Linked DNA regions of Homo sapiens. The protein of the gene in region 1 purifies or fractionates together with the protein of each later gene. This does not show direct contact. Each region holds a gene or a part of one and is shown in the gene's direction. Other genes may lie near its edges.

What was found.
Region 2: the proteins of ZPLD1 (region 1) and GNPTAB purify together in Homo sapiens (affinity purification with mass spectrometry; 2 studies listed by BioGRID and IntAct, with this or other methods). This does not show direct contact.

The regions. Positions count from the first base shown.
Region 1 is NC_000003.12:102,441,378-102,445,210, forward strand, and holds part of ZPLD1 (zona pellucida-like domain-containing protein 1 isoform 2 precursor), read left to right. Parts: intron 1-3,833. UniProt on the Homo sapiens protein: Glycoprotein which is a component of the gelatinous extracellular matrix in the cupulae of the vestibular organ.
Region 2 is NC_000012.12:101,744,999-101,748,312, reverse strand, and holds the end of GNPTAB (N-acetylglucosamine-1-phosphotransferase subunits alpha/beta precursor), read left to right. Parts: intron 1-1,071; coding exon 1,072-1,149; 3' UTR 1,150-2,814; downstream 2,815-3,314. UniProt on the Homo sapiens protein: Catalyzes the formation of mannose 6-phosphate (M6P) markers on high mannose type oligosaccharides in the Golgi apparatus.

The DNA.
Region 1 (3,833 bases):
TTGTTTCACCTCAAATAAGTGATGTTAGAATCTCTGAATGTGGTCTTGGGAATCTGTATCTTAAACCCTGCAGATGAATCTAATGTACATTTATGGTTAAGAACAACTGATAGTGTATTCTATCATTTTCTTGAGCCAATTATTCCAATTAAAAGCACAATTATTTGTTGTGGAAATATAACTAAAAACAAAATCTTCTCCCAACCTAGAAATCCTCTCTGCCTAGGTAGTAGAGAAATAAAAACACTTTTATCATTAAATAAGCATTAAACCAGAATGTGATTCACATCACAGGTAATCAGTAAGAGATTACAAAAACAGAAAGAAACCTCGCCCTTATATATAGCCAAGCAGAGACAACTCATTACATATGTTTTCAATATAGACAATAACTAGTCCTCAAGTAAGAGGACTTGACAGGACCATTTGTCACACATATGAATCCTCACTTTACCTGGTAAGTAGGGTGACCATCTGTGTTAGCTGATTTGTTTTATCCAGAGGAAAAAGTAACTTCTCATATCTTTATGACAGGAGGTAATTTTGCAATTTGGAGCAAGGCTCACATCAAAATTAGGCTCCTACCCTAAGCGCAGAAACAGGGACATAAGGCTACCATCTCCCTTGATGTTTACATTTCAAAGAGATGACTCTCAGATCCTTGAGAAAGACATTCCTGGGTCACAAAGCTTACAAGAATCCTATCTAGTTTTCAAAAGGATTAATACACACTTCAAAGAGAGGAGAAAGTACTTCTAATTACAAGTTTTCTAAAGTAAATGCTGTCAGAAAAAGGGAGGAAGTCTCCTCCTCTATTTTCAATTATATTTGTGTTTTGTTTGTATTTTTTCTTACACACATTAGCACTTTAGGTACTATCTGGCTTAGGCAACAAACACCCAAACTTTCCAGACATATATTCATAAACACATACACCCATAAACACACACACACACACACACACACACACACACACACACACACACAGTTACAATTTTAAAATTTGTATTTAAAAAACACTAAATTTGTATTTTAATAACACAAATATTAATAAAATCCAAATAACGCTGAAGTCCCGGGAGAGACTTTATATTTAGATGGGTATTATTTAACCCATTTTTTTGGAGGTTGTTTGCAAAAAGAAGATCAGAGTGAGCAAATAAAGCCTAAAGATTAATTGCTTACTGCCCTCTTGACTCTCAGTATCTCTTCCACATCACGATCACCCTTGATGTCATCAGGAGCTCCACAAGCTGCTCGGAGGCTAAGCAATGGGATGGAATGAGAATGAGTCTGGCAAAGGAAAGGGGCTATCTAAATGCAAAGCAATGTTAATAATGATGAGAGCAATCATCTCACCCTATGTGACCTTTGCTGTTTCATGACATTAGAACTATTTTCTTTAATTTCCATGGCATTTATCCTGGGACCAAGAGAAGCACCATGGTCTAATTCATTTAAATTTAAAGGAATGCCATTTAATTTTAGAGGTGGTTAACTCTTGGTTATCCAAGCTAATAGCAAAAAGCAGACTCATGAACCACTAAAATTACAGTTGTGATGATTCTAGAATAAAACTCAAAGTATAGTTGAATTTAGAGTACCAAGGAATTATTTGGTTAAAGTAAAACATACAGATGAATGTACTTGGCCTTTGTGACTAGTGTATATTTTCCGAAGCCAGGCCCCCTTCTTTGGAAGTATATGAGGATTAGGCTAAACTTTCTGGCCTCTAAAGAAATCTTTAATGATAAAGGCACATCCAAAGAGGAAAATGGCCTTATAGCACAATAAACTTTATGGCTTGACACTGTCTTATGGTGAACTAAGTAGTCATGGGAAACTGAATATGAGTCAGTGTTTCATAACATGTGATTTCGTATTATGCTGTAAATAATACTAATAAGGAAACAAGCAATAAGTTCCATGTTTTGAGTACCAGGCACCTCACAGAATTCTTTCATTTCTTACAATAAACTTACAAAATCTTTTTAAATACCCCCTTTACAGTAGGAAAACTGAGGATATACATTTGTTAAATATTGCAAATCTGCAAATTAATAGAGATTCTTTCCATCAAACAATGATGTCTAAAAATGAAATTTGAATAGTAAGTTTTAAAAATGATGTATGTGTGGAGATTCTCAATGGAAATTGCCACGTCTAAGGATCTGAAAAGTCATGTGTTGGGGGAATTTGTTTAGTCTTTTCAAGACCTGCTTGACTAAGGAAATCTTTTATTCGGTAATATTTTTAATATTTTAATATTCAATGAACACAAGTGTTCCACAGGAGGTAAAATTGAGAATCAATTATTTAATCAATAGAATTCATGAGTGAGTTCAGTAAAATGAACTGTCTAATTTTATATTAGGCTTTGCTTAACCATGGCATTTTTCTGTGCCCAAAGACAAAGTAAGAGAGGTTAGTGGAATAGTTATCCCAGGGAATATGTTCTGGTTCTCTGTATAGAAAGGAAAGGCCAATTCTCCTTTATTCCTACTTTTTAGTGGTAGTGCTTTGGTCTCCAAGTTGTCAAGAGGATGCCTGCTTTCCACTTTGCACCTGTGAAAGCAATTACTACAACAGATGAGGCAGAAGAACAGATCCAGGCAGCTATTGCTGATCACATTCTGATTAATTTACAATGATAAAGTGCAGTGGAGAAGATAGCAATTAGCAAATTCAATGAGTAATTCAGGGTCCATATTCTCCCATATTTTAATAACAGCATTCTTTATTGCATGAATTTTCACTTTTTGTTTTTATAAATAAAACCCATTTGCTTTTTTTGCTGCCTGAAAAAGATGACCAAACTTTTCTGGTTCCAAAGAATGTGGAGCAGCAAGTGTGATTATAAGTCTGCAAAGTTTGCCTCAGACTGCTTATGAACTTCCTAGAGCACTGGAAACAACAGCTTGCATTTGCTAACGAGAAACAGATGTTGTGATGAAAGACTGAGGTGGCACAAAACCTGTTCAATATACAGAGGAAACTTGAATTCCTAATCCACTTTAAGTTCTTCATCAGCTGTTGGTATTTCGTGTAGATGAAATATCAATACCCCTTTAGGACTTCTAGCTCTTTTAGCACCAAAACCTCAATCTTATATAAAAACTTGGTAAGAGCAAATTTTAACTTTCAAAAATGAATTAAAACAACATATGTAGCATCTGTTCTCTAGGCAATTTGTAAGCCCATGTAGTGCCAAATATCACCACTCTTGTTTTAGAGATAAAAGCAGAACTGATATATAAATTATTATTATGGTTTAAAAAGATGGTATAAATTAGTATTGGAATATTTATCGGAGCCCAGGATGTAAATTATTTTCAGGTGAGATTTTCTACCATGCCACAAAGCACTCTGCAGCATACAGAAAAGTTTTCTCCCACTATATTGAACAGATTGCTGTTTATACTATCAGTTTTAAACCAATACTACTTTTAAGTATATGCAAACCAGTACATCAATACTAATGTGATGATATTCACAGGAATCTCTGCATCTGAACCGTACAGAGCCTCCTGCCTGCTCACTGTGGACTAGCCACTCTACCCCCGTCCTCTCCAGTTGCTTCTGATTCCCCAAGACTGCATGTCACACATGCTCAGGAAAGGTCCACTTAGGTTCTTTGCTCTGGACTCCTTGACCACAGTGCTACAGGCACCACCACTGCCAGAAATGCTTTTTTATGAAAACACTGCCCCGCTTGGTGTAGCTGCCTTTTGATGTGGACTGCTCTGCTTCCTCCGGGTATTAAACTGCTATGGTTTACAGAATGAGACAGAGATGGGGGTAAGAGAAGAGGCTGATCCTGTTCCCAATTTTGT
Region 2 (3,314 bases), on another chromosome or scaffold:
GTTGACTTATACCAAGAAGGACAAGCACCTAAGTACTGAGAGCTTCAGGATAAATGAATGGGCTTCTTGCTGTAAATGGAAGGAAATTCAGGAAACAGAGACTGGGCAGGTGAACAGGACAGCAACTTAACCTTCATCTGCTTTCCAGGGATTGTACATCTTGTTCTTGATGTCTGTTACCATTGTTCCTGGCAGGTAAAAGTCTTATGAAAAATCTCAGAAAGGCTGTACCTGCTTTTAGAACAGGGTCCAGTGAGAAACCTTTGAGTCTGCTGTGCTGACCTAGGATGGGGAAGGAAAGGAGCCCTGACTCAAAGGAGCAGCCATTAATGGAAAGGAAGAGGAGTGTCAGTCTTTCCTCTATCTATACCAGTAGAGAATAGGGAACTAGAGAGGCAGTCTTTCCTCTATCTATACCAGTCTATCTATACCAGTAGAGAATAGGGAACTAGAGAGGCAGGAAGAGGGAAGGGAAGGGCAGGTTAAATCCCAACACTCTGCTCTCTACTGGAGTCAAACTCCTTCCTCCTGCCATACCTGCCACCTTCACAAACAAAGCAGCCAATGCTGCCTCTTCCTCCCCTCCCAAATTCCAGCTCATCATTCAAACCGTGGTGTCTTATGTTTGGGCAAAGCCCTGCCTCCTCCTACAGATGAAGGAATAAGCCATCATATCAACCCAGAGACAGTGTCTTATGGCTAAATAGAGCCAGTTTCCTTCAATAGAAAGACTTGACAAATGGACATCTTGAAAATAAATATGCTTTGGTAATAGCTGTGTAAAAATCTGTAGTTGTAGGTCTTAGAAAAATGAAGCATGGGCCGAAATAATTTTAATCCTCTTGGGTCTCTTTGTGGGCACATATCTAGGCATACTGTCCCTACAAAGCTAAACAAAACTAATATTTGTTTTTGTTTTGGAAGAGGAATGATGGAGATTTGTTTGTTGTCTTTTTAATGTATAAGATTGTGGAAATGATTAAGGTCATATGGCTCTTAGAAAGTTTGATGCACTTATATTCTTTCATCAACGTGAGAATTAAAATGTATTTTCTGTCTTTCATCATTTAGTTAATTGCACTTAAGCGGAAGATATTTCCCAGAAGGAGGATACACAAAGAAGCTAGTCCCAATCGAATCAGAGTATAGAAGATCTTCATTTGAAAACCATCTACCTCAGCATTTACTGAGCATTTTAAAACTCAGCTTCACAGAGATGTCTTTGTGATGTGATGCTTAGCAGTTTGGCCCGAAGAAGGAAAATATCCAGTACCATGCTGTTTTGTGGCATGAATATAGCCCACTGACCAGGAATTATTTAACCAACCCACTGAAAACTTGTGTGTTGAGCAGCTCTGAACTGATTTTACTTTTAAAGAATTTGCTCATGGACCTGTCATCCTTTTTATAAAAAGGCTCACTGACAAGAGACAGCTGTTAATTTCCCACAGCAATCATTGCAGACTAACTTTATTAGGAGAAGCCTATGCCAGCTGGGAGTGATTGCTAAGAGGCTCCAGTCTTTGCATTCCAAAGCCTTTTGCTAAAGTTTTGCACTTTTTTTTTTTCATTTCCCATTTTTAAGTAGTTACTAAGTTAACTAGTTATTCTTGCTTCTGAGTATAACGAATTGGGATGTCTAAACCTATTTTTATAGATGTTATTTAAATAATGCAGCAATATCACCTCTTATTGACAATACCTAAATTATGAGTTTTATTAATATTTAAGACTGTAAATGGTCTTAAACCACTAACTACTGAAGAGCTCAATGATTGACATCTGAAATGCTTTGTAATTATTGACTTCAGCCCCTAAGAATGCTATGATTTCACGTGCAGGTCTAATTTCAAAGGGCTAGAGTTAGTACTACTTACCAGATGTAATTATGTTTTGGAAATGTACATATTCAAACAGAAGTGCCTCATTTTAGAAATGAGTAGTGCTGATGGCACTGGCACATTACAGTGGTGTCTTGTTTAATACTCATTGGTATATTCCAGTAGCTATCTCTCTCAGTTGGTTTTTGATAGAACAGAGGCCAGCAAACTTTCTTTGTAAAAGGCTGGTTAGTAAATTATTGCAGGCCACCTGTGTCTTTGTCATACATTCTTCTTGCTGTTGTTTAGTTTGTTTTTTTTCAAACAACCCTCTAAAAATGTAAAAACCATGTTTAGCTTGCAGCTGTACAAAAACTGCCCACCAGCCAGATGTGACCCTCAGGCCATCATTTGCCAATCACTGAGAATTAGTTTTTGTTGTTGTTGTTGTTGTTGTTTTTGAGACAGAGTCTCTCTCTGTTGCCCAGGCTGGAGTGCAGTGGCGCAATCTCAGCTCACTGCAACCTCCGCCTCCCGGGTTCAAGCAGTTCTGTCTCAGCCTTCTGAGTAGCTGGGACTACAGGTGCATGCCACCACACCCTGCTAATTTTTGTATTTTTAGTAGAGACGGGGGTTCCACCATATTGGTCAGGCTTATCTTGAACTCCTGACCTCAGGTGATCCACCTGCCTCTGCCTCCCAAAGTGCTGAGATTACAGGCATAAGCCAGTGCACCCAGCCGAGAATTAGTATTTTTATGTATGGTTAAACCTTGGCGTCTAGCCATATTTTATGTCATAATACAATGGATTTGTGAAGAGCAGATTCCATGAGTAACTCTGACAGGTATTTTAGATCATGATCTCAACAATATTCTTCCAAAATGGCATACATCTTTTGTACAAAGAACTTGAAATGTAAATACTGTGTTTGTGCTGTAAGAGTTGTGTATTTCAAAAACTGAAATCTCATAAAAAGTTAAATTTTTGTCTGACACTTTGATTTTTAAATCTTTGAGGATTGAGTTTACTGTTACTCAGATTCAGCAGTCACTTGAGTGCCTTTACTGTGTATCAGGTTCTGTGCTGAACATTACTAAAATTAAGTGGAAAGTAAGGAAAGATTAGTATTATACAGAAGAATGTTGCTTTATGGGGGGAAAATAGTTTCTAAATGGAATTTATCATATGGTAAAATTTAGGATATCTGGGTATCATTATAAAAGCTGAGATTTATTCTAGAAAAGTTAGAGAAATGAACATTTGTCTGTAATGACGATTTCTGTGGTTAGATGAATATAGTCCATACCTAATTAGGAGCTTGATAATGGGATGGATAATACAATCATAGGCTATTCATAGACTCATTCTAATGATTCTGTGATTCAGTAGAATCATTAGAACAGAGGAACCTCAGAAGTTGATGAGCAGTCAGATGGTCAGAACCATTTGTTCAAATCCTATAGAAAAGGTCACTCTGTGTTTTAGTTTTTTT